Regions from separate parts of the Homo sapiens genome. Here regions 2 and 3 are each linked to region 1. The links come from fine-mapping of genetic effects on gene expression. A gene starts in region 1. Each other region holds a variant in brackets. All regions are shown on one strand. Distances are between the middles of the regions.

The links.
Region 2: its variant is fine-mapped to the expression of INSL3 in spleen (GTEx, PIP 0.96).
Region 3: its variant is fine-mapped to the expression of INSL3 in whole blood (TOPMed, PIP above 0.99).

What each region holds. Positions count from the first base shown.
Region 1 is chr19:17,816,382-17,824,554 of GRCh38, reverse strand. It overlaps INSL3 (insulin like 3), which reads left to right and starts at 3,036. Exons shown (of 2, transcript NM_005543.4): 1 at 3,036-3,238; 2 at 7,496-8,043. The coding sequence starts at 3,049. The coding sequence ends at 7,701.
Region 2 is chr19:17,898,576-17,906,758 of GRCh38, reverse strand. No RefSeq gene overlaps it. Among named protein-coding and RNA genes, the nearest start is that of CCDC124, 30 kb to the left of the region's middle. The variant G/A (reference allele first, on the strand shown) is at 3,781.
Region 3 is chr19:17,846,894-17,855,076 of GRCh38, reverse strand. It overlaps JAK3 (Janus kinase 3), which reads left to right and starts at 7,095. Exons shown (of 24, transcript NM_000215.4): 1 at 7,095-7,131. The variant G/A (reference allele first, on the strand shown) is at 3,679.

The DNA of each region.
Region 1 (8,173 bases):
TTACAGGCTCTCTGTGGGTGGGGAAGGAACAGGATGCTCTCCCGGTGGTCAGAGGACAAGGCCAGGTTGGGGGAGCGAGGCTGTGGGGAGGGGACCAGCATCACTGGGGCCGGACCACCTCCCCACCGACCGGCCCCCGTCATGTGCACCTCATAACTGCTAGAAAGATGTGGAGAGTGGCCAGGCTCAGTGGCTCACGTCTGTAATCCCAGCACTTTAAGAGGCCAAGGCAGGAGGATCACTTGAGGTCAGGAGTATGAGATCAGCCTGGCCAACATGGCGAAACCGTCTCTATTAAAAATACAAAAATTAGCCTGGTGTTCTGGCACATGCCTGTAATCCCAGCTACTCAGGAGGCTGAGACAGAAGAATTGCTTGAAACTGGGATGTGGAGGTTGCAGTGAGCTGAGATCATGCCATTGCACTCCAGCCTGGGCGACAGAGCGACTCCGTTTCAAAAAAAAGAAAAATGCGGACAGAGACAGACATACAGAAGGAAACTGAGAGATGAAGGCCGAGAGAGACTCAGAGAGAGAGAGAGAGAGAGATCCCTGTCCCTGCTCTCTTAGCCCCAGAGGGCCCCCTAATTTGGTAGAAATAGGGAGGGAGCTGCTCTGGGGTCAAGCAAGACTCGAGTTCCAGCCCAGGTTCTCTCCTGCCTAGGGTCAAGCATCCTTCCCTCTCTCAACCTCAGATTCCCTCCTTGGAAAAACAAAGCTATAAGACCCCCTAGGCATGAAGCGGGGGCCAAGCATCCACTGAACAAATAAATCCTGCTCTATTCTGGGTCCACCAGCCCCTGCTCACCCAGAGGGGACAACCGTGTTGGGGAGACAGAGCTTCGGATGGGACACCCCCAGCCCTGCGTGTCAGGCGCCTTGAGAAGACCTGGGCTCTGCTCAGCCTCCTGTGACCTTGGGCAAGTTTGGGGTCCTTTCTCTGTGCCTCAGTTTTCTTTTTTTCTTTTCTTTTCTTTCTTTTTGTCTGGTGAGGGGACGGAGTCTCTGTCCCCAGGCTGGTGTGCAGCGGCACCATCTCGGCTCACTGCAATCTCCACCTCCTGGGTTCAAGTGATTCTCCTGCCTCAGCCTCCCGAGTAGCTGGGATTATAGGCATGCACCACCACATCTGGCTAATTTTTGTATTTTTAGTAGAGACAGAGTTTCACCATATTGGGCAGGCTGGTCTCGAACTCTTGACCTCAAGTGATCCACCTGCCCCATCTTCCCAAAGTGCTTGCATTACAGGCATGAGCCACTGCACCTGGCCTGTGTGCCTCAGTTTTCTCATTTGTACAGTAATAGAAACAACAAAATTCTGAACATTTCTGGTCTTGGAAGATGCCCGCTGTCTTCCCCCCTGCCCCCCAGAAAAGGCAGGATTATTACTTTTCAGTTGATCTATTTCATCTCTTTAAACTGGTTAAGACAATAGCGAAGACTTGGCCGTGTGTGGTGCCTCACACCTGTAATCCCAGCATTTTGGAAGGCCGAGTAGGGAGAACCACTTGAGTTCTAGATGAGCCTGGGCAACATAGCAAGACCCCTGCCTCTACAATTAAAAAATTAAAAATGGCCGGGCGCGTTGGTGCACGCCTGTAATCCCAGCACTTTGGGAGGCCGAGGCGGGTGGATCACTTGAGGTCAGGAGTTTGAGATCAGCCTGGCCAACATGGTGAAACCCCGTCTCTGCTAAAAAATACAAAAATTAGCCAGGCTTGGTGGTGGGCACCTGTAATCCCAGCTACTCAGGAGGCTGAGGCAGGAGAATCGCTTGAACCCAGGAAGCAAAGGTTGCAGTGAGTCGAGATCGCACCACTGTACTCCAGCCTGGGTGACAGAGTAAGACTCTGTCTAAAAAGATAAAAATAAAAATTAAAAAATTAAAAATTAGCTGGGCATTGTATTGCAGGCCTGTAGTCCCAGCTACTCAGGAGGCAGAGGCTGAAGGATCGCTTGAGCCCAGGGGAATGAGGTTACAGTGAGCTATGATCCTGCCATTACAGGCCAACCCAGAGAGATCCTATGTCAAAAATGAATAAATACCCTGGTGTGGTCGCTCTCGCCTGTGATCCCAGGACTTTGGGAGGCTGAGGCGGGAAGATGACTTGAGTCCAGGAGTTTGAGACCAGCCTGGGCAACATGGCAAAACCCCATCTCTACAAAAAAAATACAAAAAATTAGCCGGGTGTGGTGGCGTGGGCCTGTAGTCCCAGCTACTCAGGAGGCTGAGGTGGGAGAATTGCTTGAGTCAGGGATAGGGAGGTGGCAGTGAGCCCATATCGTGCCACTGCACTCCAGCCAGGGTAACAGAGCAAGAACTCATCTCAAAAATAAAAAATAAAAATAGGTGGCTGGGCGTGGTGGCTTACACCTGTAATCCCAGCTACTTGGGAGGCTGAGGTGGGAGAATCACTTGAACCCAGGAGGTGGAGGTTGCAGTGAGCCGAGATCGCATCACTGCACTCCAGCCTGGAAGACAGAGCAAGACTTTGTCTCAATAATAATAATAAAAATAATAATAGTCCAGGCACAGCTCATGCCTGTAATCCCAGCATTTTGGGAGGCCGAGGCAGATGGATCGCTTGAGGTCAGGAGTTGGAGACCAGCCTGGCCAACATGGCGAACCCCAGTCTCTACTAAAAATAAAAAATAAAAAAAAAAAAATTAGCCAGGCATAGTGGTGCGCACCTGTAATCCCAGCTACTCAGGAGGCTGAGGCAGGAGAATCGCTTGAACCCGGGTGTCAGAAGTTGCAGTGAGCCGAGATCAAGTCACTGCACTCCAACCTGGGTGACAGAGTGAGACTCCATCTCAAAAAAAAAGAAGAAAAAAATAAAAAAGAAAGACTCGTTGCCCAGTGCTCCCTCTGGGAGAAGTACATCCAAGGCCCTGGCCCTGGGAGAAAGGCTCTGGCACTAACCCCACCCTTGACCTTTTTCCTGGGCGGTCCTGAAGAATGTTCTGTCCCTTCTCCAAGGCCCCCAGCTGGGACGGCCCAGGCGCCTATAAAGGGGGTCCCCGCTTGGCCCCGGCGCCACCCACCACCATGGACCCCCGTCTGCCCGCCTGGGCGCTGGTGCTGCTGGGCCCTGCCCTGGTGTTCGCGTTGGGCCCCGCGCCCACCCCAGAGATGCGTGAGAAGTTGTGCGGCCACCACTTCGTACGCGCGCTAGTGCGCGTGTGCGGGGGCCCCCGCTGGTCCACCGAAGCCAGGAGGCCTGCGACCGGAGGCGACCGTGAGTGGGGACGGGCAGGGACAGCGCTCTGGGAAGCCGAGGTGGGGCAGGTGCACGTAGGCGCAGATGCACACGTGCAGGGAGGTGGGCAGGTTTGCATGCATGTGCCCAGGGCTCACCTGCCGGCTGCGTGCACAGATCGTGGGTCCGCACTGGAGTGTGTGTGAACGCGCGTGTGAAAGTCCCCAGAGCCGTTAGCCAGGCGTGGTGGCTCACGCCTGCAATCCCAGCACTTTGGGAGGCTGAGGCGGGTGGATCCCCAGAGGTCAGGAGTTCGAGACCAGCCTGGCCAAAATGGTGAAACCCCATCTCTACTAAAAATAATTTTTAAAAAAATTAGCCGGGGATAATGATGCACATCTGTAATCCCAGCTACTTGGGAGGCCAAGGCAGGAGAATCGCTTGAACCCGGAAGGCAGAGGTTGCAGTGGGCCGATATCATGCCATTGCACTCCAGCCTGGGCGACAGAGTGAAACTCCGTCTCAAAAAAAAAAAAAAAAGAAAGTCCTCAGAGCATGAGTCCCCCTGAGGGGCCAGAAACAGAGTGAGGCAGGAGAGGTAGGCTCTTGCAAGTACATGGTGAGATCCTGTCTTAAAATTTCAATATTTTGATCTTCATGAATTTTTGCCTTAATTTTGCTTTGTTTGTTTGTTTTTTGAGACAGGGTCTCACTCTGACGCCCAGGCTGGAGTGCAGTGGTGAGATCTCGGCTCACTGCAGGCTCAACCTCCTGGGCTCAAACCATCCTCCTGCCTCAGCCTCTGGAGTGGCTGGGATACAGGTGCTGCCACCACACCCAGCTAATTTTTTTTTCTTTTTCGTAGAGAGGGAGTCTCACTCTGTTTCCCAGGCTGGTCTCAAACTCCTGAGCTCAAGTAATCCTCCCACCTTGACCTTCCAAAGTGTTGGGATTAGCGATGTGAGTCACTGTGTCCAGCTTTAAAAGTATTTAAAAGTATTGCTTTTGAAAAGTATTGCTTTTCACAATTATGTTACTTTATTTTATTATTTTATTTTTATTTATTTATTTTGAGACATAGCCTCGCTCTGTCACCCAAACCAGAGTGCTGTGACGTGATCTCGTCTCACTGCAACCTCTGCCTCCCGGGTTCCAGCAATTTTCCTGCCTCAGCCTCCAGAGTAGCTGGGACTGCGGGCACGCACCACCACACCTGGCTAATTTTTGTATTTTGTTTGTTTGTTTGAGATGGAGTCTCGCTCTGTCACCCGGGCTGAAGTGCAGTGGCACGATCTCAGCTCACTGCAACCTCCGCCTCCTGAGTTCAAGCAATTCTCCTGCCTCAGCCTTCCAAGTAGCTGGGATTACAGGCCACTCCCCAGGTCACCCACTACCATGCACAGCTGATTTTTTTTTTTTTTTGTATTTTTAGTAGAGACAGGTGAACAGGTGAAACAACAGGTTTCACCATGTTGGCCAGTCTGGTCTTGTTTTGTTTTGTTTTGTTTTGTTTTGACATTGAGTCTCGCTCTGTCCCCCAGGCTGGAGTGCAGTGGTGTGATCTCGGCTCACTGCAAGCTCCGTCTCCCGGCTTCACGCCATTCTCCTGCCTCAGCCTCCTGAGTAGCTGGGACTGCAGGCGCCTGCCACCAAGCCCAGCTAAATTTTTTGTATTTTTAGTAGAGATGGGGTTTCACCATGTTAGCAAGGATGGTCTCAATCTCCTGATCTCGTGATCCACCTGCCTCGGCCTCCCAAAGGGCTGGGATTACAGGCATGAGCCACTGTGCCCGGGCCAGGCTGGTCTTGAACTCCTGACCTCAGGTGATCTGCCCGCCTCAGCCTCCCAAAGTGTTGGGATTACAAGCGTGAGCCGCTGTGCCTGGCCTTTTTACAAATATTTTAAATTTTATTTTAAAAGTATTGCATTAAAATACTTACCTTGCTGGATGTGGTGGCTCATGCCTGTAATCCCTGCTACTCAGGAGGCTAGGAGGGAAGATCACTTGAGGCCAGGAGTTTGAGACCAACCTGGGCAATATGAGACTCAGCCTGAGACAGAGACCCTTGTCTCAAAAAAGGGAAAAATATTAATATTATTATTATTATATATATATATTTTGAGACAGGGTCTCACTCTATCACCCAGGCTGGAGTGCAGTGGCGTGATCTCGGCTCATTGCAACCTCTGCCTCCCAGACTCAAGCAATCTGCCCACCTCAGCCTCCTGAGTAGCTGTGACTAGCTACTCTCAGGCTGGTGAGACCAGCCTGGCCAACGTGGCGAAACCTCGTCTCTACTAAAAATACAAAAATTAGCCGGGCGTTGTGGCGCACACCTGTAGTCTCAGCTACTCAGGAGGCTGAGGCAGGAGAATCACTTGAACCCGGGAGGTGGAGGTTGCAGTGAGCCAAGATCACGCCACTGCACTCCAGCTTGGCAACAGAGCGAGACTCCATCTCAAAAAAAAAAAGCTGATGCTGACATTTGGGGATGTATATGGTAGTGGGGCTGTCCTGTATATTGTAGGGTGTTAGATAACATCTCTGTCTTCTGCCCCCTAATGCCATGAATAGCCTCACACCCCATCCAAGTTGTGACATCTAAAACTGTCCCCAGACAAGTATCCCCTGGAAACAAAATCACCCTGGTTTGAGAACCACTGGTGTCAATTGTAAACTGCAGATTGGGTAGAGGGTAAACAACCCTCTAAATTTTCATAAGTCCTTTTTTTTTTCTTTTGAGACAGTCTTGCTCTGTCACTCAGGCTGGAGTGCAGTGGCACGATCTCGGGTCACTGCAGCCTTGCCTTCCCAGGCTCAAGCGATCCTCCCACCTCAGCCTCCCAAGTAGCTGGGACTACAGGCATGCAGAATTATGCCCAGCTAATTTTTGTATTTTCTGCAGAGATGAGGTTTTGCTGTATTGCCAAGGCTGGTCATGAACTCCTGGGCTCAAGCAACGCACCCACCTAGGCTTCCCAAAATGCTGGGATGACAGGTGTGAGCCACGGTGCCTGGCCTCAAAAAAATATCCTGATGGCTTCGTGCCTCCCTGTCTGTACCCTAGTCCTGGCCCTGGTGCAGGGATATACGACAAGTTTGTGCAGATGTGTTAACACGTGTCCACATGTCTCTGTGTGCCACTCCACTTGCGGTGTTAGGGATCCAGGGGAGGTGGTCTGCAAGGGTGTGTCCTCGTAGGGGTGTGTGTGTGTCTGTGGGTCCACCACACATGCGTGGGTGACCAGGAAGTGGACCCACAGACACATGTACACCCCTGCATGTCTCTGTACCACGAGGAGTCTGTGGGTGGGTCTCTGACCTGCTCTGGGTGTCTCACGGACCCTTGGACCTGTTGGGGAAACTGACACCATCTGTAGCTCCAAGACCCCCGACACTCCCTGGGCAGGGCATGGGGCACTCAGGTGGCATATGGGGACCCACGCAGCTGGGGATGTGAGTGTGGACATGAGTTGAGTGGATGAGAGGATTAACCAGGTGCCTGGCGTACAGTAGGTGCTTAATAAGTGCTCGCTTTTTTTTTTTTTTTTTTTTTTTGAGATGGAGTTTCATTCTTGTCACCTAGGCTGGAGTGCAATGGCATGATCCCAGCTCCCTGCAACCTCCACCTCCTGGGTTCAAGTGATTCTCCCACCCCAGCCTCCCCAGTAGCTGGGATTACAGGCGTCCACCACCACGCCTGACTAATTTTTGTATTTTTTAGTAGAGACAGGTTTTTACCATGTTGGCCAGGCTGATCTCAAACTCCTGACCTCAAGTGATCCACCCACCTCGGCCTCCCAAAGTGCTGGGATTACAGGCGTGAGCCACTGAGCCGGGCCAGTGCTCACTTTTTTTTTTTTTTTTTTGAGACAGAGTCTCACTCTGTCACCCAGGCTGGAGTGCAGTGGCGTGATCTCGGCTCACTGCAAGCTCTGCCTCCTGGGTTCACGTCATTCTCCTGCCTCAGCCTCCTGAGTAGCTGGGACTACAGGCGCCCGCCACCACACCCGGCTAATTTTTTGGTTGTTTTTTTTTTTAGTAGAGAAGGGGTTTCACTGTGTTAGCCAGGATGGTCTCAAACTCCTGACCTCGTGATCCGCCCACCTCGGCCTCCCAAAGTGCTGGGATTACAGGTGTAAGCCACTGCACCCGGCCAGTGCTCACTTTTTATCTGCATGCATGAGTGTTTGGTGGGTTACTCAGTGGGATGTGTGTGGATTCGTGCACATGCAGCATGGGGTAGCATGTCCTCTGTCGTTTCCGTTCCAGCTGAGTTTCACTCTGTCCCCAGGTGAGTTGCTACAGTGGCTGGAGAGACGACATCTGCTCCATGGGCTGGTGGCCGACAGTAATCTCACGCTGGGACCTGGCCTGCAGCCCCTGCCCCAGACCTCTCACCATCACCGCCACCACCGTGCAGCTGCCACCAACCCTGCACGCTACTGCTGCCTCAGTGGCTGTACCCAACAAGACCTGCTGACCCTCTGTCCCTACTGATTCCTCCTTGGGTGCAGCCTCAGAGTGGCCTGAGGCCCAGAGGGTCTGGTCTGGTGAGCTCCTGAGGCCACACAGCACCATAAAGTCTCGCATCTACAGGCCTTTGATTACCTCCTGGGATGGGTGCTCACTATCTACCCCAGACCAATGCCACCTGCAGCCTGTGGAGTCAACTGCAGAATAAATCACACCCTAGCCCTGGCTTGGAGGATCCCCGCTTTCACAGATGCTGGACACTGACAGCCAAATGTCCTCACTCCAGGGGAGCCCCAGACGCTCCGCTCCCTGCATGTGTAACACCCCTTCTTGCTGTCTCTTAGTAAATAAACGACCCAAAGCAGCTTCCTGCATTTTCTCTAGAAAAAGGGACAAGCCTCAGTCAGTCCCTGTGTGGGCTTGTCCCCCAGCAGCCATGGACCCACCGGCACTTCCAGGAGCTTGATAACTAGAGAGGCATTGCAACGCAAAGTGG
Region 2 (8,183 bases), 82 kb before region 1:
TGCACCATTGCACTCCAGCCTAGGCGACAGGGTGAGACTCTGTCTCAAAAAGAAAAAAGAGAAAAGAAAAAGTGTATCCTACTGAGTCTCTGCTCAATAAACATCAACACATTTTTTTTTTTTTTGAGACAGAGTCTCACTCTTGTCGCCCAGGTTGGAGTGCAATGGTGCCATCTTGGCTCACTGCAACCTCCACCTCCTGGGTTCAAGCTTCTCTTGCCTCAGCCTCCTGAGTAGCTGGGATTATAGGTGCTCGCCACCATGCCCGGCTAATTTTTGTACTTTTTTAGTAGAGACAGGGTTTCGCCATGTTGGCCAGGCTGGTCTGGAACTCCTGACCTCAGGTGACCCACCTGCCTTGGCCTCCCAAAGTGCTGGGATTACAGGCGTGAGCCACCATGCCCGGCCAACACATATTTTTTTAAGAGACAAGTTTCACTGTTACCTAGGCTAGAGTGCAGTGGCATGGTCATAGCTCCTTGCAGCCTAGAACTCCTGGGCTCAAGCAATCCTTCTGACTCTGCCTCCTGAGTAGCTAGAACTATAGGTACACACCACCCTGCCTGATTAATTTTTTTATTTTTAGAGATGAAGGTCTCACTATATTTTTCAAGCTGGTTTCAAATTCCTGGCCTCAAGTGATCCTCCTGCCTCAGCCTTTGAAAGCCCTGGGATTATAGGCATGAGCCACCAAATCCAGCAATAAACATCAATACTTTATTTATTTTATTTTTTGCTGGGCATGGTGGCTCACGCCTGTAATCCCAGCACTTTGGGAGGCCAAGGGGGGTGGATCACGAGGTCAGGAGATCGAGACCATCCTGGCTAACACGGCAAAACTCTATCTCTACTAAAAATACAAAAAATTAGTTGGGCATAGTGGCAGGCGCCTGTAGTCCCAGCTACTCGGGAGGCTGAGTCAGGAGAATGGCATGAATCTGGGAGATGGAGCTTGCAGTGAGCCGAGATTGCACCACTGCACTCCAGCCTGGGTGACAGAGCGAGACTCCATCTCAAACAAAACAAAACAAAACAGACTTTGACGGAGTTTCACTCTTGTTGCCCAGGCTGGAGTGCAATGGCACGATCTTGGCCCACCGCAACCTCCACCTCCTGGGTTCAAGTGATTGTCCTGCCTCAGCCTCCCGAGTAGCTGGGACTACAGGCATGTGCCACCACACCCGGCTAATTTTGTATTTTTTTTTTTTTTTTTTTTTTTTTTTTAGTAGAGACGGGGTTTCTCCATGTTGGTCAGGCTGGTCTCGAACTCCTGACCTCAGGTAATCTACCCGCTTTGGCCTCCCAATGTGCTGGGATTACATGTGTGAGCTACTGAGCCCGGCAAATATCAATACTTTTAATATATGGGTAAACTGCTTGGCACATATTGTGTGCTCAATAAATGTAAATAATTTCTTTTTTTCTTTCTTTTTGAGAAAAGTGCTCGCTCTGCTGCCCAGGCTGGAGTGTAGTAGCATGATCTTGGCTCACTACAACCTCCGCCTCCTGGGCTCAAGTGGTCCTCCCAAGTAGCTGGGACTATGGGCACAAGCCACCACAGCTGGCTAATTTTTGTATTTTTGTATTACAAGCATGAGCCAGTGTACCTGGCCAATAATTTCAAAATGTTCTTTTCTGGCTATAAAAATGAATCACTTTAAATATTAAAAATAGTCCAGTCGCGATGGCTCACGCCTACAATCCCAGCACTTTGGGAGGTCAAGGAGGGTGGATCACCTGAGGTCAGCAATTTGAGACCAGCCTGGGCAACATGATGAAACCCCATCTCTACTAAAAATACAAAAAATTAGCCGGGTGTGGTGGCGGGCACCTGTAATCTCGGCTACTCGGGAGGCTGAGGCAGGAGAATCACTTTGAACCCAGGAGGCGGAGGTTGCAGTGAGCCGAGATTGCATCATTGCACTTCAGCTGGGGCAGTAAGAGCGAAACTCCATCTCGGGGGAAATAAAAATTTAAATATAGGCTGAGCATGGTCACTCATGCCTGTAATCCCAGCACTTCGGGAGGCCGAGGCAGGCGGATCACGAGGTCAGGAGTTCGAGACCAGCCTGGCCAACATGTCGAAAACCCATCTCTACTACAAAAATTAGCTGGGCGTGGTGGCATGCACCTGTAATCCCAGCTACTTGGGACGGTAAGGCAGGAGAATTGCTTGAACCCAGAGGGCGGAGGTTGCAGTGAGCCAAGATTGTGCCACTGCACTCCAGCCTGGGCAACAGAGCAAGACTCCGTATCGAAAAAATTAAAAAATAATAAATACATATTATGGAAAAGAGAACCCTACATATCCTTTTTGATTCTTTTTTAGTGCAGAATAGTGATCCTCAAGCAAGGATGATTCCACTCTCCTACTCTGCCCCAGGCCTTAGGGAACAATCGCCATGTCTGGAAACAATTTTGATTGTCACAACTGGAGTGGATGGTGGTGCTACTGGCACCTAGAGGGATGAGGCCAGAGATGTTGCTAAACATCCTACAGGCCGGGTGTGGTGGCTCATGTCTGTAATCCCAGTACTTTGGGAGGCCAAGATGAGCGAATCACTTGAGGTCAGGAGTTCGAGACCAGCCTGGCCAACATGGTGAAACCCCATCTCTACTGAAAATACAAAAATTAGCCAGGCGTGGTGGCACATGCCTGTAATCCCAGCTACTGGGGAGGCTGAGGCAGGAGGATTGCTTGAACGTGGGAGGTGGAGGTTGTAGTGAGCCAAGATCACACCACGGCACTCCAACCTGGGTGACAGACCAAGATTCCGTATCCCTCTCTCTCTCTCTATGAAGTTTTAGCCAATGTGACTAGGCATGAAACAGAAATTGAAAATTTCTGCATCCAAACTGGAAAAGAAGGAATAAAATGATCTCTGTTTGCAGATGACATGATCTTATACATAGAGTATCCCAGAAGTTACACACATGTCCACAGAAGCCTGTTAAAATAAGCAAATTGAGCAAATTTGCAGAATACAAAATCAACCCCCAAAAATCGATTTTATTGGCTGGGCACGGTGGCTCACGCCTGTAATCCCAGCACTTTGGAAGGCTGAGACAGGTGGATCATGAGGTCAAGAGTTCAAGACCATCCTGGCCAACATGGGGAAACCCTGTCTCTACTAAAAATACAAAAATTAGCTGGGAATGGTGGCACGCGCCTGTAGTCCCAGCTACTCGGGAGGCTGAGGCAGGAGAATCGCTTGAAACCAGGAGGCGGAAGTTGCAGTGAGCCGAGATCACACCACTGCACTCTAGCCTGGGCCACAGAGCGAGACTCCATCTCAAAAAAAAAAAAAAAATCAATTGTATTTCTACACCACTAACAACGAACAATCTGAAAAGGAAATTAGGCAAACAGGCCAGGCACAGTGGTTCACATCTGTAATCCCAACACTTTGGGAGTCTGAGATGGGAGGATCACTTGAGCCCAGGAGTTCAAGACCAGCCTGGGCAACATAGCAAGACCCCATCTCCACAAAAAATTTTAAGATTAGCCAGGCATGCTGGTGCTTTCTGTAGTCACAGCTACTCAGGACGCTGAGGCTGGAGGATTACTTGAGCCCTGGAGGTTGAAGCTGCAGTGAGCTGTGATCATACCACTGCATCCCAGCCTCTGTGACAGAGACCCTGTCTCTACAACAACAACAACAACAATGAAAAAAGAAACCAATTCCAGTTTGTTGTTGGAGAAAGGAGAAAAACGAAAGCACAAAGAACCTCCACCACTATCACCACCAGCACAACCCTGCAGAAGCCCAGAGGATACCC[G/A]GGTCGCCTTCAGCCTCCCCTGCTTCCCACCACTGGCTGCCTGCATTCTTGGACCTGGTCCCACCATCTGTTACAACATGGAGGCTTACCACTAAGTTCCAGGCATGCAGAGACATGCCTCACCCCAGGATGTGAAAAAGGCATATGAGGTCGGGTGTGGTGGCTCTCGCCTATAATCCCAGCACTTTGGGAGGATGACACAGGAAGATCACTTGAGCCCAAGAGTTCGAGACCAGCCTGGGCAACATAGTGGGGCCCCATCTCTACAAAAAATTTTAAAAATTAACCAGGTGTGATGGTGCATGCTTGTAGTCCCAGTTACTTGGAAGGCTGAGGTGGGAGGATAACTTAAACCCAGGGGTTCATGGCTGCAGTGAGTTCGGGCCACTGCACTCTAGCCTGAGAGACAGAGTGAGAATTTGTCTTAAAAAAGTAAAAATAAAAATATGTAGTGTTAAGGCTGGGTGGGGTTTTTTTTGTATGTTTTTTTTTTTTTGAGATGGAGTCTCATTCTATCATCCAGGCTGGAGTGCAATGGTACGATCTCGGCTCACTGTAGTCTCCACCTCCCGGGTTCAAGTGATCCTCCCACCTCAGCCTCCCAAGTAGCTGAGATTATAGGTACCCAGCTAATTTTTATATGTTTAGTAGAGATGGAGCTTCACCATGTCGGCCAGGCTGGTCTTGAATTCTTGGCCTCAAGTGATCCACCTACCTCGGCCTCCCAGAGTGCTAGAATTACAGGCATGAGCCACTGCACCCAGCCAAGGTTAGGTTTTAAAAAGTAAAAATGGTAAACTGTGTCTTGTTATTTGCTTTAGAAAAGAAAAAAAAACCGAAGTGGCACAACTGAGGCTCACTGCAAGATCACAGCTCACTGTAAGAAAAAAATTCCACTTATGGTAGTGTCCAAAAGAATAAAAAACTTAAGAAAAACTTAGCCAAGGGGCCAAAAGACTTGTACACTGAAAACTGCAAATCATCGCTGAAATAAATTAAAGACAAAAATACCAGAAAGACATCCCATGTTCATGAATTAGAAGACTTAATATTGTTAAGATGGCTATAGTACCCAAAGTGATCCGTTGATTCAAAGCAATCCTATCAAAATCTCAATTTTTTTTCAGAAAGAGAAAAATCCATTCTTAAATTCATCTCAAGGAACCTTGAGGTCAAAATTACATAGACAGACATATAGATCAGTAAAAGACATGGAGAGCCCAGAAATAAACCCTTAATATACAGTGAGATGATTTTTGACAAGGATGCCAAGACCATTAAATGGGAAAGGACAAGTGTTTTTCAACAAATTCTGCGGAAAACTGGATATCCACAGCAAAATGATGACGTTGGACCCTGTATTAGTCCATTTTCACGCTACTAATAAAGACATACCTGAGACTGAGAAAAAGAGGTTTAATTGGACTTGCAGGTCCACATGGCTGGGGAGGCCTCAGAATCATGGCAGGAGGCAAAAGGCACTTCTTACATGGCAGTGGCCAGAGAAAATGAGGGAAACACAAAAGCAGAAACCCTTGATAAAACTATCAGATCTCGTGAGACTTACTCACTACCACGAGAACAGTATGGGGGAAACCGCCCCCACGATTCGATTATCTCCCACTAGGTCCCTCCCACAACACATGAGAATTATGGGAGTACAATTCAAGATGAGATTTGGGAGGGGACACAGGGCCAAACTACATCATTCTGCCCCTGGCTCCTGCCAAATCTCATATCCTCACATTTCAAAACCAATCATGTCTTCCCAACAGTCCCCCAATGTCTTAACTCAATTCAGCATTAACTCAAAAGTCCACAGTCCAAAGTCTCATCTGAGACAAGCAAGTTCTTTCTGCCTATAAGCCTGTAAAATCAAAAGCAAGTTAGTTATTTCCTAGATGGAAATGGAAGTACAGACATTGGGTAAATACAGCCATTCAAAATGGGAGAAATTGGCCAAAACAAAGGGCTACAGACCCCATGCAAGTCTGAAATCCGGCGGGGCATTCAAATCCTAAAGCTCCAACATTATCTCCTTTGACTTCATGTCTCACATCCAGGTCATGCTGATGCAAGAGGTGGGTTCCCATGATCTTGGGCAGCTCCGTCCCTGTGACTTTGCAGGGTACGGCGTTCCTCCCAGCTGCTTTCACGGGCTGGTGTTGAGTGTCTGTGGCTTTTCCAGGCATATTGTGCAAGCTGTCGGTGGATCTACCATTCTGGTGTCTGGAGGATGGTGGCCCTCTTCTCACAGCTCCACTAGGCAGTACCCCAGTAGAGACTCTATGTAGGGGCTCTGACCCCATATTTCCCTTCTGCACTGCCCTAGGAGAGGTTTTCCATGAGAGCCCCACCCTTACAGCAAACTTCTGCCTGGGCATCCAGGCATCTCCATACATCTTCTGAAATCTAGGTGGAGGTTCCCAAACCTTGATTCTTGACTTCTGTGCACCCACAGGCTCAATGCCATGTGGGAGCTGCCAAGGCTTGGGGCTTGCACCATCTGAAGCCATGGCCTGAGCTCTGCATTCGCCTTTTTCAGCCATGGCTGGAGCGGCTGGGACACAGGACACCAAGTCCCTAGACTGTACATAGCTTGGGGACCCTGGGCCCAGCCCACAAAACCACTTTTTCCTCCTAGGCCTCCAGCCCTGTGATGGGAGGGGCTGCTGTGAGGACCCCTGACATGCCCTGGAGACATTTTCCCCATTGTCTTGGGGATTAACATTCGATTCCTCATTACTTATGCAAATTTCTGCAGTTGGCTTGAATTTCTCCTTAGAAAATGCAATTTTTTTTCTATCACATTGTCAGGCTGCAAATTTTTCAAACTTTTATGCTCTGTTTCCCTTTTAAAACTGAATGCTTTTAACAGCACATAAGTCACCTCTTGAATGCTTTGCTGCTTAGAAACTTCTTCCACCAGATACCCTAAATCATCTCTCTCAAAGTTCAACATTCCACATATCTCTAGGTCAGGGGCAAAATGCTGCCAGTCTCTTTGTTAAAACATAACAACAGTCACCTTTGCTCCAGTTCCCAACATGTTCCTCATCTCCATCTGAGACCACCTCAGCCTGGACCTTATTGTCCATATCACTATCAGCATTTTGGGCAAAGCTATTCAACAAGTCTCTAGGAAGTTCCAAACTTTCCCACATTTTCGTGTCTTTTTCTGAGCCTTCCAAACTGTTCCAACCTCTGCCTGTTACCCAGTTCCAAAGTCACTTCCACATTTTCAGGTATCTTTTCAGCAATGCCCCACTCCCAGTACCAATTTACTGTATTAGTCTGTTTTCACACTGCTAATAAAGACATACCCGAGACAGAGAAAAAGAGGTTTAATTGGACTTGCAGTTCTACACGGCTGGGGAGGCCTCAGAATCATGGCAGGAGGTGAAAAGCACTTCTTACATGGCAGTGGCAAGAGAAAATGAGGAAGATGCAAAAGTGGAAACCCCTGATAAAACCATCAGATCTCGGCCAGACACGGTGGCTCATGCCTGTAATCCTAGCACTTTGGGAGGCTGAGGCAGGCAGATTGCCTGAGCTCAGGAGTTCGAGACCAGCCTGGGCAACACAGTGAAACCCTCTACTCTCTACTAAAATACAAAAAATTAGACGGGCTTGGTGGCAGGCACCTGTAGTCCCAGCTACTTGGGAGGCTGAGGCAGGAGAATTGCTTGAACCCGAGAGGTGGAAGTTGCAGTGAGCTGAGATCATGTCACTGCATTCCAGCCTGGGCAAAAGAGCAAGACTCTGTCTCAAAAAAAAAAACAAAGCAAAACAAACAAACAAACAAAAAACATCAGATCTCGTGAAACTTATTCACTACCACAACTACCGCAAGAACAGTATGGGGGGAACCGCCCCCATGATTCAATTATCTCCCACCAGCTCCCTCCCACAACACGTGGGAATTATGGGAGTACAATTCAAGATGAGATTTGGGTGGGAACACAGAGTTAAACCATATCAGACCCTTACCTCATATACGAAAATTAACCCAAAATGAAACTAAATTTCCCCTTTTTTTGCAGCCAGGTGCAGTGGCTCATGACTGTAATCCCAGCACTTTGGGAGGCTGAGGCAGGCAGATCACTTGAGGTCAGGAGTTCCAGACCAGCCTGATCAACATGGCGAAACCCTATCTCTACTAAAAATACAAAAATTAGCCAGGCATGGTAGTGAGCGCCTGTAATCCCAGCTACTCGGGAGGCTGAGGTATGAGAATCGCTTGAACCCAGGAGGTGGAGGCTGCAGTGAGCTGTGATTGCACCACTGCACTCCAGCCTTTTTTTTTTTTTTTTTTTGAGACAGGGTCTTGCTCTGTCGCCCAGGTTGGAGTGCAGGGGTACAGTCATGGCTCACTGCAGCCTTGATCTCTGGGGCTCGAGGGA
Region 3 (8,183 bases), 31 kb before region 1:
CTGCCTCACCCTCCAGAGTAGCTGGGATTACAGGCACCCATCATCATGCCTGGCTAATTTTTGTAGAGACAGGGTTTCTTGTTTCCTTTTTTTTTTTTTTTTTGAGACGGAGTCTCACTCCATTGCCAAGGCTGGAATGCAGTGGCACAATCTCAGCTCACTGCAGCCTCTGCCTCCTGGGTTCAAGCCATCCTCTCCTGCCTCAGCCTCCTGAGTAGCTGGGATTACAGGCATCTGCCTCCACGCCCGGCTAATTTTTGTAATTTTAGTAGAGACGGGGTTTCACCATGTTGGACAGGCTGGTCTTGAACTCCTGACCTCAGATAATCCACCCACCTCAGCCTCCCAAAATGCTGGGATTACAGGCGTGAGCCACCGCGCCCGGCCCAGAGCTTTATTATTTTTCTTTTTGGTTGGGCACAGTGGCTCATATCTGTAACCCCAGCACTTTGGGAGGCTGAAGCGGGCAGGTCACTTGAGGTCAGGAGTCGAGACCAGCCTGGCCAACATGGTGAAACCCCGTCTCTACCAAAAATACAAAAATTAGCTGGGTGCAGTGACACACACCTGTAATCCCAGCTACTCGGGAGGCTGAGGCACGAGAATCACTTGAACCCTAGAGGCAGAGGTTGCAGTGAACCAAGATCATGCCGCTGCACTCCAGCCTGGGCAACAGAGTGAAACTGTCTTAATTTAAAAGAAAAAAAAAAGCTTTATTATTTTTCTTTCTTTTACATGTTGTCGGTGCCTGAGTGATGCCGTGGCCCCGGCTTCCTAGTGACACACCTGGCCTGGCAGGATTCCTCTGCCCCCACCTCGGGCCATGCAGGAATCTGACCTGAGCAGGCTGGTCCTGGGCTACTCTGTGTCTCTGTTATCACCATCCAGTGGGGCCCAGGCGAGGAGTTCCTGGTTAGCAGGGCTGTCCAAGGGCACCCCTGTCCCCCCTGTCTTTTTCCCAGGGACTTTGAAGGCACCAGTTTGTTCATCCAGGATCCTGGGCCAAGCCACAGCTTGGATCACGGAGCGTTCACAATGCTGATGTGCCTCATCCTTCCCACTCTTTCCCTCATCTCAGTTACTGGCACCAGTGCCTTCCCAAGGCTGGGCCCAAGACACCCAAATCTTGGTTTCTGACCGTTGGTCCTCAAAACACTGCAAAGCCACCCACTTGTATGCACTCCGGACTCCAGGTCCCTGGCCTTCTTTTTTTTTTTTTTTTTTTTTTGAGATGTAGCCTCTTTCCTGTCACGCAACCTTGAGTGCAATGCAGTGGCGCGATCTCAGCTCACTGCAACCTCCACCTCCCGAGTTCAAGCGATTCTCCTTCCTCAGCCTCCAGAGTAGCTGAGATTACAGGCGTGCGCCACCACACCCAGCTAATTTTTGTATTTTTAGCAGAGACGGGGTTTTACCATGTTGGCCAGGCTGGTCTTGAACTCCTGACCTGAGGTGATCCACCCACCTTGGCCTCCCGAAGTGCTAAGATTACAGGCATGAGCCACTGCACCCGGCCTTTTTTTTTTTTTTTTTTTTTTTTGAGACAGAGTTTTGCTCTTGTTGCCTAGGCTGGAGTGCAATGGTGTGATCTCGGCTTACCGCAGCCTCCACCTCCTGGGTTCAAGCGATTCTCCCACCTCAGCCTCCCAAGTAGCTGGAATTACAGGCATGCACCACCACATCCAGCTAATTTTGTTTTGTCAGTGGAGATGGGGTTTCTCCACGTTGATCAGGCTGGCCTCAAACTCCTGACCTGGGACTACAGGTGTGCACCACCATGCCCAGCTAATTTTTGTGTTTTTTTTGGTAGAGGTGGTGTTTCGCCACATTGCCCAGGCTGGTCTCAAACACAAGTTGTTTGTCAGAGACCAGCCTGCAATTCTCCCAGGGTGCTGGGATTACAGGCGTGAGCTACCATGCCCAGCCTAGGGGCCTCTTTTATAAGGGCATTAATCCCATTCATGAGAGCTCAACCCTCATGATCTAATCACCTCTTAAAAGGTTCCGATTCTGAATACCACCGCCTTCGAGGTTAGGATTTCAATGTATTAATTTTGGGGAGACGCAAACTCTCAGACCATCACAGTATTTTATCTTTTTCAGTGCTGCTGCAAAGGAAATTTTTCAAAATTTTTTTATGTTCCAATTGTTTGCTGCTGGTGTATAAAAATTCAATTGACTTTTGTATTGAATTCAACGGACTTTTTAAACCTGGTAACTTGCTGAATTTATGTATTAATTTCAGTAGTTGTCTTATAGATTCCCTTGGGTTTTTGACATAAACAATCATATCATCAGCAAATAGCAACAGTTTTATTTACCTTTTTTTTATTACTTATTTTATTCTGTTTTGCTTGTTACAGAATCTTGCTATGTTGCCTTTAAATTCTTGGGCTCCCATTTCAGCTTCTCCAGTAGCTGAGGCTACAAGCATGTATCACCATGCCCAGCCACACCTGACTTGTTTATTTTTCTCATATATTTTTTTGTTTTAAGACAGGATCTCGCTCTGTTGCCCAGACTGGAGTGTAATGGTGTGATGATGGCTTACTGCAGCCTTGTCCTCCCTGACTCAAGCAATCCTCAGCCTCCCAAATAGCTGGGACAACAGGTGTGAGCTATCACACCCTGCCAATTTTTAATTTTTTTTTTTTTTTTGAGACAGAGTCTCCCTCTGTCACCTAGGCTGGAGTGCAGTGGCGCGATCTTGGCTCACTGCAACCTTCACCTCCCGGGTTCAAGCGATTCTCCTGCCTCAGCCTCCTGAGTAGCTGGGATTACAGGCGCGCATCACCACGCACGGCTAATTTTTGTATTTTTACCATGCCTGGCTAATTTTTGTATTTTTAGTAGAGATGGGGTTTCACCATGTTGATCAGGCTGGTCTTGAACTCCTGACCTTGTGATTCTCCCACCTCAGCCTCCCAAAGTGCTGGGATTACAGGCGTGAGCCACCATGCCCAGCTTTTCTTTTCTTTCTTTCTTTTTTTTTTTTTTTAGACGGAGTCTCACTCTGTCACCCAGGCTGGAGTGCAGTGGCCCGATCTTGGCTCACTGCAAGCTCCGCCTCCCTGGTTCACACCATTCTCCTGCCTCAGCCTGCTTTTTCTTTTCTTATTACAGTGGCTAACATCACCAGAACAATGTTGAATAGAGGTGGTGAAAATGGACATCCTTGTCTTGTTTCCAATCTCAGGAGGAAGTTATTCAGTCTTTTACCATTTTTGTTTTTGTTTTTGAGATGTAGTCTCGCTCTGTCGCCCAGGCTGGAGTACAGTGGCACTATCTTGGCTCCCTGCAACCTCTGCCTCCTGGACTCAAGCCATCCTCCCACTTCAGTCTTCCAAGTAGCTGAGACTACAGGTGCACACCACCATGCCTGGCTAATTTTTGTATGTTTTGTAGAGACGGATCTCACCATGTTGCCCAGGCTAATCTCCAACTCCTGAGCTCAAATGATCCTCCCATGTTGACTTCCCAAAGTGCTCAGATTACAGGCATGAGCCACCGTGCCTGGCCCTGCCTCACTGTACTCTTAATTTTCATTTGGCAAGTGAAGCTGAGGAAATTTTTCTGGGTTTAAGAGCTATTTGTCCTCCATTTTCTCTGACTTCTGGATTCATATCCACCTAACTGGTTGGCATTTTCTTACTGCTTTCTAGATGTTACTTATATAAC[G/A]AGGATATTTTATCCATGAGTTCAATTTTGTTTCCAGTTACACTTTGATTGTATTTTATTCTTTGATTGTATTTATGGACTTCTTGTCAGCAGAAAAATCTGGGTGTTTGCATCACTGACGTGCCCCATTTTTCTCGGGCAAGTTCTGGGTTCTGTCCCCAGAACTTCCTTTTTTTAAAAAAAATTATTTATTTATTTATTTATTTTTTGATACGGAGTCTTGCTGTGTCGCCCAGGCTGGAGTGCAGTTGTGCGATCTCGGCTCACTGCAACCTCCGCCTCCCAGGTTCAAGTGATTCTCTTGCCTCAGCCTCCTGAGTAGCTGGGACTGCAGGCGCCCGCCACCACACCCAGCTGCGTTTTGTATTTTTAGTAGAGATGGGGTTTCACCAGGTTGGCAAGGCCGGTCTCGAACTCCTAACCTCAGGCGATCCGCCCGCCTCGGCCTCCCAAAGTGCTGGGATTATAGGCGTGAGCCACCGCGCCCGGCCAGAACTTCCTTTTAGAGCCTTCACATGCCCTTCTCTGGGGCTGAAGGTACCACTTTGGTCCTCACCCCAATCTCCTCTTACTTATTCTCAAAATATTGCAGAAACCATCACACTGGAGGTAGCAGAGACCCAGAAACTCACTGTACTTCCGGAAAGCAGAGGCTTCAGCCTCAGGCCAAGGATGAGAACATAAGGTTGCATTCCCGTCTGCTGAAGCCACCCAGGAAGTGAAAGAAAACACTACAACTAAGCTTCTGCTTGGCACTTCCTGCCGCAGGTCAGCTGTGGCTCCACTAAGCTCCACTAAGCTGAGGACATAATCTATATCTCTTTCCCTTGACCCACGCGGCCCTACCCACGCCATCAAATGAGTCTCAGCCCCCCGTGTCCCTGACATCCTGCTCTTCTCAGGAACACTGTGAATTCGTGAAGCCTCCAGGCCTTTGCCTGGGCTGTTCTGCCTGCCAGAACTGCCCACACTCCCACATTCTCAGGTCACTCTCTGGCTAGTCCCACTTGTTGTTGGATTTCAGAATCAAAGCCACCTCCTCCAGGAAGCCCTCCCAGATCCAGTCATCTCTCTTAGCAGACCGGTCCCAGGGGCAACTGATATAATTATTGGGCAATAGCTTGTTTATTGCCATCTCCCCTGCTGGACTGTCAGCTCCCCTGGACAGGGATTGGGTCTGCATTGTCCCCGATTCCCTGCACACAGGCTGTGTCCAATAAGCCTCTGGCTGATTGAACAGTTAAGATCAACAAAATACTTACCAAACCATTTTGTGTTAAGACTTGTGATGGTGATACAGAGATGAAAAGTCTTTTTTTTTTTTTTTTTGAGACGGGATCTCACTCCCATTGCCCAGGCTGGAGTGCAGTGGCATGACCACAGCTAACTGCAGCCTCAACTTCCTGGGCTCAGGTGATCCTCCCACCTCAGCCTCCCCTAGTAGCTGGGACTACAGGCACATGCCACCACATCCAGCTTATTATTTTGTTGTTGTTGTATTTTTTGTAGAGACAGGGTTTCACCATGTTGCCCAGGCTGGTCTCGAACACCTGGGCTCAAGCCATCCTCCTGCCTGAGCCTCCCAAAGTGCTGAGATTACAGGTGTGAGCCACTGTTCTTGGCCACAACTTCTTAAATCTATTCCTTTTTTTTTTTTTGAGACAGAGTATTGCTCCGTCGCCCAGGCTGGAGTGCGGTGGCACAATCTCAGCTCACTACAACCTCCGCCTGCCTCCTGGGTTCCAGTGATTCTCCTGCCTCAGCCTCCCAAGTAGCTGGGATTACAGGCACATGCCACCACGCCCAGCTAATTTTTATATTTTTAGTAGAGATGGGGTTTCACCATGTTGGCCAGGCTGGTCTCGAACTCCTAGGCTCAAGCAATCTTCCCACCTGGGCCTTCCAAAGTGCTGGAATTACAGATGTGAGCCACTGTACCCGGTCACCACTTCGTCAGTCTATTCCTGAAGCTCTACTTCCGGGGCTCTGATCCTATTATCCTAAGAACACTGGCCCAAGTCTCTGCATTTGGATGCTGCCCGGGCCTTCTGCCTCTTCTATTTATAACAGCTCCTACTTCCAACTCTCCTGTGGCTCCAGATTATGCTCCAGGCAAAACCCACCCTTCTCCCAAAGACCCTGATCCCCCTGTCCCCCCACGATCTTGCCCCTGTTGACCGCCCTGCAGTCCCCTTCCCCCTCATCTCACCCCTGCCCCTGGCCTCCTGACTGCTCTTCAAGCTGCTAAGATCACTGCCCTCTCAAGGTCTTTGCCCATCCTGTGCCCTCCTCCTGGAGCACCCTTTCCCTGGCCAGCTCCCTGTCCTGCCTCGGGTCCAAGTTCCAGTCTGTGCCTGTCCTGACACCCTGGCTTTCTTTGTTGTCTGCGATGATTTGGCTCCTTCATTTGCTCATTGTCTCAGCGCCAGATCACAAGTTCCAAGAGGCCAGGCCGGATCCACCTGGTTTTTTAGGGCTGGGCCCAGGGCACCACAGGCAGAAATGGGTCATTATCTCTCCCTGAGTCTTTTCTTTTTTTTTTAAACGAAGTCCCGCTCTGTTGCCAGGCTGGAGTGCAGTGGCGCCATCTCGTCTCACTGTAACATCCGCCTCCTAGATTCAAGCAATCCTCCCACCTCAGCCTCCTGAGTAGCTAGGATTACAGGCATCACCAGGCCTGGCTAATTTTCCTGTTTTTAGTAGAGACAGGGTTTCATCATGTTGGCCAGGCTGGTCTCAAACTCCTGACTTCAAGTGATCCGCCCGCCTCAGCCTCCCAAAGTGCTGCGATTACAGGCCACCACGCCTGGCTAATTTTTGTATTTTTAGTAGAGACGGAGTTTCGCCATGTTGGCTAGGCTGGTCTCAAACTCCTGACCTCAAGTAATCGCCCGCCTCAGTCTCCCAAAGTGCTGGGATGACAGGCGTGAGCCACTGCGCCCAGCGTCTCCCTGAGTCTTAAGGGAGAAATACCTCAAAGAAGAACTTGACCTTCCTCTGGGGCAACTTCCCTGCTTCCCTCCTGGGCAAATCCAGCCAGGTTTCCTTCCCTGGGTGCAAAATTAGTTCCACTGGGTGCCCAACTCACACATGCTACAGATGGGTAAACTGAGGCAATAAGGGCCGGGCCAGAGCCCCACTTAACAAGTGGGTCTAGAGTCGGCTGAGCCCCTGGTGTGACCCAGACCCTTCTCTGTGCTATCATCAGTTCCTTTGGCTTAGGGGTCTCCAGCAGCCTGTCTGAACGGGGCGGCTGATGCAGAGGCTTCCGGAACTTTCTGCCCCTCCTTGCCCGCCTCCCCGCCCCCAGCTCCCGCAGGGCCCTGACTTTCGGTAAATGACAGTGGCTCAGGAAACCAAGGGGCCCACACAGGAAGGAGCCGAGTGGGACTTTCCTCTCGCTGCCTCCCGGCTCTGCCCGCCCTTCGAAAGTCCAGGGTCCCTGCCCGCTAGGTAAGAGCTGGCGATGCCGCAGGGCTCGGCCCAGACACTGGGGGAGGATGGTGGTGGCGGGGGATGGCTGGGCTGGGGCAGGGTGCTGCCAGGGCAAAGGCTAGCTCGCCTTCCAGGCCTCGGAGGAAAGCTGCGAGGCAGACGTGAGCCGAGACTCGCATCCTCCGATCGCTCGCTTCTCTGGGCTTCGGCTTTGACTAAGGCCGGGAGATGCCTGCCTTGCGGACCTGGAGGAGTCATTGCGCATGCGCGACGGGGGCTGCGGGGTTGGGGGTGGGGAGGAGGGATTGGGAAGGAGGGATTGGGGGGCGGAGTTCCCAGCCCCTACCCTCCAGGCCTTCCCGGTCCAGACACAGGGTACCCGACCATACCAGGATGCAGAACGTTGAGGATTATAAACAGGGGATGCCGAGGCGGGAGGATAGCTTGAGGCCAGGAGTTCAAGGCCAGCCTGGGCAACATAGCCAGACCTCCATTTCTACAAACATTTTTAAAAAACCAAAAAAACTATGGCGTTTTCTGGGACCAAACATCACCTCTGACTTTTCATTTTTTTTTGTTACAGTATTACAGAATAATAATATTCTGTTAAGATTTTTTTGTTGTTTTGGAGATGGGAGTCTTGCTATGTTGTTCAGGCAGGTCTCTAACCCCTGGCCTCAAGCTATCCTGCTGCCTCAGCCCCCTGAGTAGCTGGGATTGCAGTGGGGCGCCACTGCCACTGAAGCCTTATTTTAAACTCGACTGGGGCTGGGCACAGTGGCTCATGCCTTTAATCCCAACACTTTGGGAGGCTGAGGCCAGCGGATCACTGGAGGTCAGGAGTTCGAGATCAGCCTGGTCAACATGGTGAAACCCTATCTCTACTAAAAACACAAAAATTAGCCAGGTTTGGTGGCGGGTGCCTGTAATTCCAGCTACTCAGGAGGCTGAGGCAGGAGAATCGCTTGAACCTGGGAGGTGGAGTTTGCAGTGAGCCGAGATCATGCCACTGCACTCCAGCCTGGGAGACAGAACAAGAATCCGTCCTCCCCCCTACAAAATAAATAAAT